3 linked regions of the Homo sapiens genome follow. The protein of the gene in region 3 interacts with the protein of the main gene of each other region in a pairwise test. Each region holds a gene or a part of one and is shown on either strand. Other genes may lie near its edges.

Region 1 (3,500 bases), on a different chromosome or scaffold from region 3:
CACCACTAAAAATGGCAAAATAACGTTGAGCTCAGGGATCTGACACTGAGAGGGAATTTCCTGATTTTTTGAAGGAAATTTCCTGGTTTACAGAGTGGACTTGACCAAGTGTGAACGATCATGGGCGTATGTGTTATGTGGGAAGTGTGTTCTGACACATAGATACTCTGTAATTGAAATTTATTTTAGGACATACATATGGAAGAGCTTGATTTACAGTCACACTTCGGGAGGGGTGGGGGGGGTAATGAAAACAAGCGGGGGGGCATGTGTAGTTTTGATGGAGATGCAGCCTTTTCCTCACACCCACACAAACTTATTTCCCAAATCTTAATGCCAACCATGAGGCATGAAGGGAAAATTGGGTGTAACAGAGGATGCGAACCACCTTAAGGATCAACTCGCCGACTGTCTTGTGGCTTTCAAAAGTGGTGAAATGAGAAGAAAATAATTTTTTCATTCTGTGTATTTACATGTGTCTATAGTTTGCAGGAAAAGAGCAGACTTATTACCAGGGAAGACACTTAGGAGACACTTTTGGCGAAGACTGGCAGCAAACACCTTTAAGGCAAGGTGAGAGGCAAGGTGAGATGGGTGAGAAACACAAAAGACACTTTTCAAAAGTAACATGCTCACCACTGGGTCGCCTATTTTCTGTGGACTGACAGAGTGACCCCTGGATATATGTGCTGTGTGTGTTGCTATAGAATCCTGACTAGACTATAGAAATAGAAGCAACGGTGTGGTCAGGCGCGGTGGCACACGCCTGTAATCCCAGCACTTTGGGAAGCTGAGGCGGGACAATCACCTGAGGTCAGAAGTTCGAGACCAGCCTAACATGGTGAAACCCCAACTCTACTAAATAAAAAAATTTGCCGGGTGTGGTGGCGGGTGCCTGTAATCCCAGCTACTCAGGAGGCTGAGGCAGGAGAATCACTTGATCCCAGGAGGTGGAGGTTGCAGTGAGCCAAGATGATGCCATTGCGCTCCAGCCTGGGCAACAACAGCAAAACCCCATCTCAAAAAAAAAAAAAAAAAAGCAACAGTGTTGCAGACATCTCCTGGCACCAATCAGATAGTGCCTCCCTGCAGCTCCAGGACCATTCACACCCCGTCTGCAGTCACTGCCTCATGCCCTTGAGACTGTACACCTCCATGCTGGGAGAGCTTCCATGCCCAGGGGTGCTGAGAAGTTGACATCTCAGGCATACTTCACCCCAGTTTCCTATGGGAACTGGTGAGGCAACTCTAAGGTGGAGGTTGAGCCCCCGTGACTCCTACAACAAATTGTTGCCTTTCCTTCCTTGTCTCGTTCTCCTTCCCTTTACTCAGGGTCAGCTTCAGGGGGGATGTGAAGCCCCCTACTCTAAGCTGGGGATTGAGGCAGAGGTGGCACCAGGGATATACGTCTCTCACAGGCCCTGGATACTCTCAGAGAACACTTCTGCATCTTACAATCATAATATGCACCTACATCACACATTAAAACTAATGTCGATATAACTGTCTATAAGTCAGATATCTGCAAATAATTCAAATATATTTAGATACAGCCATCATAATTTAGATACAACTATCTAAGAAGTAACTGCTAATTGCTCACATAAGTCTTTATTCTCTAGACAGTTATATATACACATACAAATATGTATGAATGTATTCATATCTCAATCTAATCCTTTAAGAATGTCTTTTAATTTTAACCTTTTTCCCTTCTCAAAAACATTTATAACTCTTTCACTAGCTCTGGGATCCTGGCTACTAAGTCTATAAGATCTGAAGGGGATGGATGCAACTGATGCTTCTATGTATCTAAATTTAAACATTATTGGTTTAATGTTGAGGCTTATTCCTTCATTATAGCTATTTATGCCAGGAAGCAAATGACAATACATTTTTAAAATGTCCTCTGTGTAAGAGAATTTCGTCTCGCCTGCCCCAGATGCAGGAAGACCCACAGTGCTGGCCCAGTCAATAAAACATAAGGCCTGGCAGAAGCCACCACATGTTCTGCCTCAGAATAGGCTGGAAATAGCAAATCAGAGTCATAACTTTGCCAGAGGGACATTTTCATTATGGGCTATTTATCCTTGTTCTACACACATTTAAAATGCATTTCCATAACATGTGTGTGCATAGACATATAATAACTGCTAAAGAATAAAGGAGACACATTATTTCCCTTAGATATTTACTTTATTGTAAAATATATCAGGTTTATTTTAAAATAGGCCTTGTTTTTGATATATTCAAGTTATTCCAGCCAGATCGAGAACAGATGATGTCGCAGAATGAACTCCTGGCCTGGAACTTGAGACTCAGAGCTCTCAATAAATTTCCAGCTCTTCTTTGAAAACAATAAATAGGCAGGGCATGGTGGCTCACGCCTGTAATTCCAGCACTTTGGGAAGCCGAGGCGGGTGGATCATCTGAGGTCAGGAGTTCGATGCCAGCCTGGCCAACATGGTGAAACCTCGTCTCTACTAAAAATACAAAAAATTAGCTGTGCATGGTGGTGGGCACCTGTAATCCTAGCTACTCGGGAGGCTGAGGCAGGAGAATTGCTTGAACCTGGGAGGTGGAGGTTGCAGTGAGCCGAGATCATGCCACTTGCATTCCAGCCTGGGTGACAGAATGAGACCCTGCCTCAAAAAAAAAAAAAAAAATAAATAAATATCTTTTCTCACATAACAAATTAGAATGTCACTTATTAATTTGCTGGCAGATACTGTCCCTAATGGAAGTGAACTCCAGGTATCACGATGGCACGTGTCCTCCTGCCCCGGCTCAGCACCTGTTGTCATCTATGGTGGGAAAGGGCAGTCAGGAAGATTATGCATTTGGGCTCTTGATCTTCTCCTTTTAAAATTTTTTAATGAAATTCTTTTCTAAAGGCTGATTCGTTTGCAATGTACACAAAGGTGTAAACTGCAAATAGCTGTCACTAAGCAAGGATGCGTAATCTGACTAGACTCTTCAATGTAGAAAGCATGTTGAGAAATAGGAGAGTAGAAACACAGTCCATGATGTTGCAGGTGGTGCTCCCCAGCGAGGGAATGTTAGCACGACACTTCATTCTCACACCTACAGCCTGGGAGACAGTGGTGTGCTGGCAAATGTCCAGCCACAGGCTCTTGGGAACGCTTTTTAAAAAGCCCTGAACCAACTCCTGCCAGCTGGATTGAGCTGGCTTCAACACACCACCGCCCATAGGGTATGAAAGACACCCTCTTTCCAGAAATGTGAATACCACAGGGTGTTCTTGCGAACATGTTTACGTAAGAAGATTGGAGACAGGGCGCACACACAAAAAGACTCCGAGAAGGATCTGAACAGGCGTTCTCCGGCAACTAGGTCTGGGTGTCACTTTCACCCAGGGTCTGGGTGACAGAACAGCCCGGGCCCAGCCTCAGCACACCCACTGGCTAGCTGTGAAGTCCTGTCAAGGCACTAGGTCTTTCACACTAGGTCTCGGTGACAGAACAGCCTTGGCCTAGCCT
Region 2 (3,500 bases), on a different chromosome or scaffold from region 3:
TTTTCTTTTGCCTGTTAAACCTCTGCTCCTAAAAACAAAAACAAACCAAAAAAAATACCTAAATCGGTTACTGTTAATGGTTTTTCAAGTTTCCAAAATAAGAAAATAAGAAGAGTGTGCATCTGGCTTCCTAGGTATGTTGCTCTTCCCCAAACTCCTGAGGGCACCATAGGGGACAGAGCCTCTGTTCCCTGGAGCTCTCCAGGCCCCTGTGCCAGGCACTGCCCTGAGCCTACACAGGGTGGTTTTCAGAGAAGGGGTGGGAGCATCTGAGTGGTCCCAGAAGTCCCCAAAGCTGCTACCTGGATGGCTCCTAAGCACACTTCTCCAGGTGACTCACAGGGGCCAAGAAGTGCCCTCAACATGTGTTTTTTGTATTTTTATCTATTTATTTATTTAGAGACCAGGTTATGAGACTGGCTAATTTTTGTATTTTTGGTAGAGACAGGGTTTTGCCGTGTTGCCCAAGCTGGTCTTGAACTCCTGGGCTTAAGTGATCTGCCCACCTCCACCTCCCAAAGTGCTGGGATTACACACATGAGCCACCATGACCGGCCCTCTCAATATTCATTTTTGCCTCATTTACCTCCATGTTGTATTCAAATTTTTCATCTTCTCCTACTTGTCCTGAAAATTTTAAAGGCATTTTTGTCTGGTTTTCATAAATTTGATATATACCTTCATAGAAGCTGGAAACAGACACAGACATAAAATGAAATAAAAATCACCTGTAATCCTGCTGTACAGGAAAAAAAATATGGTTACCTTTTTGGTTTTGGTAAGTCTTATTTACATGTACGAATATATAATTTTTTTTTTTTTTTTTTTTTTTTTGAGACAGAGTCGCGCTCTGTCACCCAGGCTGGAGTGCAGTGGTGCGATCTCGACTGAACACACTCTCCACTTCAGGTTCAAGCCATCCTACCACCTCAGCCTCCCGAGTAGCTGGGATTACAGGCACACACTCCCACGCCTGGCTAATTTTTGTATTTTTTGTAGATATGGGGTTTCGTCATGTTGCCCAAGCTGGTCTCAAACTCCAGAGCTCAACCAATCCATCTGCCTGGGCCTCCCAAAGTGCTGGGATTACAGGCGTGAGCCACCATGCCCAACCAGATATATAAATTTTAAAAATAAACTGCAATATAACCAATAAATTTGTATACAGCTTTTTTTGGTTTATATATTTCTAATGTCACTAAATTTCTTTTCAGCTTCATTTCTAATAGGTGAATAATATTATACCACATATAATTTAAGCTATACAACCCCTTACTGAATTATTTATCCATCATAGGACGTGGTATTTTTGTATTTTGTGTATGTGTGTTTTGCCATTATAAAGAAGGCACTGAGAAACATTTTGGAATATGAATCTTTTGTTTTGCTTAAAGACAAGTCTCAATCTGTCACCCAGGCTGGAGTGCAATGGTGTGATCATGGTTCACTGCAGCCTCTACCTCCCTGGGCTCAGGTGATCCTCCTACCTCAGCCCCCCAAGTAGCTAGGACTACAGGCATGCACTACCAAGCCTGGCTACTTTTTAATTTTTCTTTTATAGAGACAGAGTTTTGCCATGATGCCCAGATTGGTCTGGAACTCCTGGGTTCAAGCAATCTGCCTGCCTTGGACTCCCAAAGTACTGGAACTACAGGTGTGAGCCACCAGGAATGTGAAACTTTGACTAAATCTTTTTGTTTTGTTTTGTTTTGTTTTTTTGAGATGGAGTTTTCACTCTTGTTACCCAGGCTGGAGTGCAGTGGTGTGATCTCGGCTCACTGCAACCTCCACCTCCTGGGTTCAAGCAATTCTGCTGCCTCAGCCTCCCAAGTAGCTGGGATTACAAGCACACACCACCACGCCCAGCTAATCTTTTTGGATTTTTAGTAGAGATGAGGTTTCACCACATTGGTCAGGCTGGTCTTGAACTCCTGATCTCAGGTGATCCGCCTGCCTCAGCTTCTCAAGTGCTGGGATTACAGGCGTGAGTCACTGCGACCAGACTGTCTTTTTGTTGTTGTCGTGGTTGAGACAGAGTCTTAGTCTGTTGCCTAGGCTGGACTGCAGTGGCGTGATCTCTGCTCACTGCAACCTCCGCCTCCTGGGTTCAAGCGTTTCTCTTGCCTCAGCCTCTAGAGTAGCTGGGATTACAGGAATCCACCATCACACCCACATAATTTTTGTATTTTTAGTAGAGACGAGGTTTCACCACGTTGGCCAGGGTGGTCTCGAACTCCTGACCTCAAGTGATCTGTCCACTGCGGCCTCCCAAAGTGCTGGGAGTACAGGTGTACGCCACCATGCCCGGCCTACATCTTTGACCAAAAAAAAAAAAAAAAATTATTGGTCAAAATGTGTGCTTTGAAGGCTCTACATAGATATTGATAAGCTTCCCTTTAGAAACAGTATATACATTTATCTGCCTATCAGCAGTATATGAGTATGTGCAACATAAAAAGTTTAAGGTTTACTAACATTTTAAAAATTAATGGTTAAAAATCATTTCTATGAAGGAAAAAGGGCGGTAGTACAGAAAACACTGGGTGCTTAATATTCCACACAAAGGGCCAGGTGCGGTGGCTCACAGCTGTAATCCCAGCACTTTGGGAGGCTAAGGAGGGTGGATCACAAGGTCAGGAGTTCGAAACCAGCCTGACCAACATGGTGAAATCCCATCTCTACTAAAAATACAAAAAATTAGCCAGGTGTGGTGGCACATGCCTGTAAGCCCAGCTACTCAGGAGGCTGAGGCAGGAGAATCGCTTGAACCCAGGAGGCAGAGGTTGCAGTGAGCCGAGATCACGCCATTGCACTCCAGCCTGGGCAACAGAGTAAGACTCCGTCTAAAAAAAAAAAAAAAAACTTCCACACACAGGACCTAAAATATCGGAAGCATGGGGGTCGACAAGAGGGTGCATATCTCAGCTGTCTGAAAGTTATCATTTTGCTTCCTTTTGGTACCCAACCAACACTGACCATGTACCTCCTTAGGAACAGTGACTTGGGGTGCTGGGAAACAGCCAGGCATAGGCCCTGCTCTTGTAGTGTACAGAGTCCCATACTTCAACCTCAGGGTACTTGCAAGCAGACACTAGGGAGGTGATAATCACCACCAGCACCTCTGTTTCCTACACTCACTGAGGGTTAGCTGCTGCACATACATTATCCCGGGAGGTAACGGTCACTATGGAAGGAAATTACAGGGACAAGTAGCCCTGGGTTCAGTACCTCACTCTGCCCCTTGCAAGTCTGTGACTTTAGATAAATCGCTCAGTCTCCACATTCATAAAATGGGGACAATGACAGCACCTAGGGTTACTGAGAAGATGAAGTGAGCCAATGCACAGTAAACGCTAAGTTGAATGACTTAGGGCCTCATGGACTTTCTGGGTGGCTCAGATTTTTTATTGATTTGCATGACAAGAATGCTCAAAAAATGTTTACTACTATAATTTGTGTCACTGGCTGTTCTATACATTAGGACACTGAAATTGGTAGGA
Region 3 (5,579 bases):
CACCTCTACTAAAAATACAAAAAATTTGCCGGGTGTGGTGGTGGGCGCCTGTAGTCCCAGCTACTCAGGGGGCTGAGACAGGAGAATGGCGTGAACCTGGGAGGTGGAGCTTGCAGGGAGCTGAGATCGCGCCACTGCACTCCAGCCTGGGTGACAGACCGAGACTCCGTCTCAAAAAAAATAAAAAAAAAAAGTTCAGCTATCCTTGAAGAAAATATTGCAAGTCATATATCTGATAAGGAATTAATATCTAGAATACATAAGGAACTCACAAAACTCAACAACTAAAAACCAGCCAAATTCAAAAATGGGCAAACAACTTGAATAGACATGTCTCCAAAGAAGATATATAAATGGCTAAGAACATGAAAAGATGTTCAACATCATTAATTATTAGGAAAATGTGTATCAAAACCACAAGGAGATACCACTTCATACCCATTATGATGGCTGTTATCAAAAAACAGGAAACAGTAAGTGTTGGCGTAGATGTGGAGAAATTAGAGCCCTTGCGCATTGCCAGCGAGAATATAAAACAGTTCAGTCGCTGTAGAAAACAGTACAGCAGTTCCTCAAAAATGTCAACATAGACCTATCATTTGATCCAGCAATCCTACGCAAAAGTACATACACAAAAGTATATACACAAAAAAAGTATACACACAAAAGTACTGAAAGCGGAGATTCCCACAGATATTTGTATACAGAGATATTTGTTCACAGCAACTTTATCCACCATAGCCAAAAGATGGCTATTATGAATAGCCGATGGATGAATCAATCAACAAAATGTGGTATATTCATACAATGGAATATTAGTCATCTTTAAAAAGGAATTAAATTCTGATACATGCCATAACATGGATGAATCTTGAGGACACTATGTTAAGTAAAATAGTTGTATTAGTTTGTTTTCATGCTGCTCATAAAGACATATCCGAAACCGGAAACAAAAAGAGGATTAATTGGACTTACAGTACCACATAGCTGAGAGGCCTCTGAATCATGGCAGGAGGCAAAAGGCACTTCTTACATGGCAGTGGCAAGAGAAAATGAGGAGGAAGCAAAAGCGGAAACCCCTGATGAACCCACCAGATCTCGTGAGACTTATTCACTATCATGAGAATAGCACGGGAAAGACCGGCCTCATGATTCAACCAGTTCCTCTTTGGTCCCTCCCACAACATGTGCGAATTCTGGGAGATACAATTCAAGTTGATATTTGCCCAGGGACACAGCTGAACCATATCAATAATCTAGACACAAAAGGTCAAATATTGTATGATTCCACTTACATGAGGTACCTAGAATAGTCAAATATAATACAGACAGAAAGCAGAACAGTGGTTACCAGGAAATGAGGGAAGGAGAAATGGGGAGTAATTGTTTAAATGGGTACAGAGATTTGGTGTGGGATGATGCTTAATGCCACTCAACTGTACAGTTAATATGGTTATAATGATTAATTTTATGTATATTTTATTGAAATAAAAAAGGATACAAGGGAATGAGCTACTGATATACATAACAACATGGATGAATCTCAAAATAACTATGCTAAGTTAAAGAATCCAGACAAAAAAACCGTGCACATATATAATTCCATCTGGTTAAAATTCTAGAAAATGCCAACTCATCTAGTGACAGAAAACAAATCCAGGCTGACACAGTGGCTCACACCTGTAATTCCAGCTCTTTGGGAGGCTGAGCAAGGAGGATCTCTTCAGGCCAGGATTTCAAGATCAGCCTGGGAAACATATTGAGACCCAGTCTCTACAAACAAATAAAAAACAATAAAAAAAGAAAACAGATATGTCAGGAAGAGGAATTGCAAAGGGGCACAAGGAAACTTCTGGAATAATGGGTATGTTCATTATCTTGATAGTGGGGATAGTTTCACAGGTGTGTTGAAACTTATAAAACTATAAATGTTCAATATGTATAGCTTATTGTATGTCAGTTATTCCCGAATAAAGCCATTCACAGAGGGGAGAAAATGTAGCCATTCTTACAGGCTTAGCCTTCTCTTGACAAATGGGAGATGCCACTGCTGGTTATCCTTTCTCACTGGTGCTGAAACACTGCCACTCTCTTTGTTGGTAAAAAGTTACAGGACTGTATTTACACATTTCTCCCCTGCTCTGCCTCTTCTGATCTGGACCATCATATCCCTAGTCTGGATTACTTTGGTCACCTCTGTGAGCTCTCCTGTTTCTGGTGTTGCTTCCCTTCTTCTACTCCTCAGTGGCTCCCCATCTCACTCCAAATCCAAACCTACTACTTTGTATTCTAACATGACAAAGCCCTACCTTCTGCCACCCATTTACTTGTCCCTTTGTCTTCATTTCATTTCCTCTTCTCTCACTCTATTCCATCCACACTTGTTGCTTCTGAAACATCCCAATCATGTTCTATCTTCCCGCCTATGTGCTCCCGCTTCAAATTTCTCAGTGGCTCATTCTCTCCGTCCAATCTGCTTAAATGTTACCCCTTTAACAAGGCCTTGCCTGGCTCTCCTACCTAAAATTGTAAGATTATCCCTCACCCTTGTTACACAATCTACTTTTATTTTCTGTTTTCCCTTGCTAGAATGTGAGCTTGATGAGGGCAGGGATTTTTGTCTGTTTTGTTCACTGATACATGCTCAGCATCTAGACAACTGACTAGCAAATAGTAGATGCTTATTGTTAAATGAAAAAATAATTGCATAGGCATGAAAAAAATGTAACTTTGTAGATCAAATAAGTTTTTTCCCCCCCTTTGGTCTTCTTGTGAGCCTTCTTGGCTCTTCATGGGAGACCTTATTGTTAGATGAATAAATAACTGGATGGTCACCCCCAAAAATGTGACTTATAAGACCAAACAAGTTTTACTGAGCAGTATAAGTGATTTCAAAAATCACTGACAAGGCATAGCATGATACAATAAAAAAAAGCTAGGTCAAATAAGCTTTGAGATTTTAGACAGGGATGCTGGGACGCTAAGATAACATTAAACATCACAGCGTTTTTATGAATACTCCAAAACTCCAAGCTGTAATTATAAACTAGCTTTTCATGGTCTCAGTGATGAGCTGAGAAATATAGAGCAAGTCATGTTAAAATAGAGATTCAAGAATTACGGGAACAAATTTCCATCCTTAAGGGGATGCAATTTTTCCCAAATCAAAGACATGAATGGAAATCCTAGAATTCCAAGAACATTATTGCAAAGTCTCTACTTTCCAGCCTATCACATGCTCAACAGGAAACATGGATCGGTTTCTTCCTTTTGTGAGCCTTCCTGGGTTTTGGATTTTTGTTTGTTTCTTTGTTTGTTTTGAGACGGAATCTCACTCTGTCGCCCGGGCTGGAGTACAGTGGCGCAATCTCAGCTCACTGCAACCTCTGCCTCCCAGGTTCAAGCAATTCTACTGCCTCAGCCTCCCGAGTAGCTGGGACTACAGGTGCGCACCACCATGCCCAGCTTATTTTTCTATTTCTAAGAGACAAGGTTTCACCATGTTGGCCAGGCTGGTCTTGAACTCCTGACCTTGTGATCCACCTGCCTTGGTCTCCCAAAGTGCTGGGATTACAGTTGTGAGCCTCCGCGCCCAGCTGCCTTCCTGGCTCCTTGTGGGAGGTCTGGAAAATAATGTCAAGAATATGCAATACTTGGCACTAGTTTAAAATCTTAAGAATTGCTTTTCTTTCTAGAAAGACAATTTCACAGAAAATGTTTCCTTCCAGACAAAGAAACAAAAATGGTAGCCAATAGTTACTGTTGATCTAAGTGATGTTTCTGAAGGTGTTCCAGTCAAAGAACAAGGTGCTGGACCATATTAAACATTGGGTTTTTAATGCCTTCCCCGCTAAAGTTCGTTTTTTATAGCTAGGAGTAACAAGCAATTGCCAGCAAAGCTGGAATAGGAAAATCAAATATTCTGCCTATTTACATATGGTTCCCCGAAGCCATTCCTGATTAAAAATTGTACCATTTCAATCTTCCTACTGGAGATATCTATTAACTAGAACGGCATGTGAAAGCCAATGAATTTAGTATATAATTACACGTATCCTATACAAATTACTTCTCAATGACCTCTACTCATGAAAATAAACCAAAGAGGGATGACTGGCTCATTATAAATCTACAAGAAGATTTCCCTGGGAAAAGGTATTGAGAGCAGAGTCTTGAAAGATCTTAAGCTTCAACTGAATTTAATTTCAGCAGGAAGCAATCACTTCTGTATCTGAATTCCCAGTGCATTTTACGTGAACCTCTCCAGTGGCAAGGAACACTTTCCAACTTAAATCCCTGCTCTTATCACTAAGTAGCAATGTGACCTTGGCCAAGCCACTTCCCTTCTCGGTGTTTTCATTTGTAAAATGAAAGGCTAGAATCAAGTGATTTCAAAAGTCTCTTTCAAACCCAATGTTTCATCATTTCATAATTATAATCACGAGAGCCCACCTATTACCTCCCTATTACCTCAAAGTGAGAAAGCCATTGATTTATCTTTGGAGTTCCCATACTGTCTAGAACAGCTCATTGACAAACAAGTTCAAGGACACAGAAAAAAATACAATTCTCTGAAGTGTCCACTCTCTATGACCTCCTTAAGCCCTTCTCAACCTCAACCAAAATTTTAAACCAAATGATTCTCTTCAAGTCCACCTTTGCCATAGTTCTGGCATTCTGCCAAGGATTATAAGACCAGAAAACTAAACAGATATCACTTGTCACTTAGAAGACATGCGCCCACCATAGAGTTTCAAGGCACATGCTTTGTACACCATCTGACCCAGAGCCACATGCTTTGTATGCCGTCTGACACACAGCCAGACACCTACAGAAAGGTTCTGTTTCATCGAATAAGATAATCTGATGCATTCCAATCATCTGAGAGTATGTGCTGGAAAGCTACAGCAGATGTGGGTGAGAAGTAAAGCTGGAGAAAGGAAGACACCAGGACCTGAAAGAAAAAGCAAGTGGAATGTCCCCTTAACCTTTCCAGAAGGTGGACATTTTAAAAATCCAAGTCCCTGGCCAGGCGCAGTGGCTCACACCTGTAATCTCAGCACTTTGGGAGACCAAGGCATGCAGATCACGAGGTCAGGAGTTTGAGACCAGCCTGGCTAGCATGGTGAAACCCCGTCTCTACTAAAATTATAAAAAATTAGCTGGGAGTAGTGGTGCATGCCTGTAATCCCAGCTACTCGGGAAGCTGAGGCAGGAGAATCACTTGAACCCAGGAGGCGGAGGTTGCAGTGAGCCGAGATCGTGCCACTGCACTCCGGCCTGGGAGATAGAGCAACACTCTGTCTCAAAAAATTAAAAAAGTAAAATAATAAAATAAAATCCCTGAGACGGCTACACTGCTGGGATAAGAAATACCTGCTCATAATGCACATAGCCTTAGGTGTTAAGATTCTGAAGCCTGGATATTTGTCCTCAAATCCTAACTCTGCTAATTACTTGCTGCATCACCATGAACAAGTTAATCAACCTTCTGTGACTCAGTTTCCTCATCTGTAAAATGAGGATAGCAATAGTACTTCATTACTATTTTGTTCTTTGAATTGTTGGGAAGACAAAAT

The links. Proteins that work in one complex are often made in the same cells at the same time.
Region 1: the proteins of FTO (region 3) and SHC3 interact in binary tests that used the Homo sapiens proteins (3 or more experiments, as listed by UniProt).
Region 2: the proteins of FTO (region 3) and USP20 interact in binary tests that used the Homo sapiens proteins (3 or more experiments, as listed by UniProt).

The regions. Positions count from the first base shown.
Region 1 is NC_000009.12:89,042,819-89,046,318, reverse strand, and holds part of SHC3 (SHC-transforming protein 3), read left to right. Parts: intron 1-485; coding exon 486-573; intron 574-3,500. UniProt on the Homo sapiens protein: Signaling adapter that couples activated growth factor receptors to signaling pathway in neurons. Involved in the signal transduction pathways of neurotrophin-activated Trk receptors in cortical neurons.
Region 2 is NC_000009.12:129,841,958-129,845,457, reverse strand, and holds part of USP20 (ubiquitin carboxyl-terminal hydrolase 20), read right to left. Parts: intron 1-3,500.
Region 3 is NC_000016.10:53,828,637-53,834,215, reverse strand, and holds part of FTO (alpha-ketoglutarate-dependent dioxygenase FTO), read right to left. Parts: intron 1-5,579.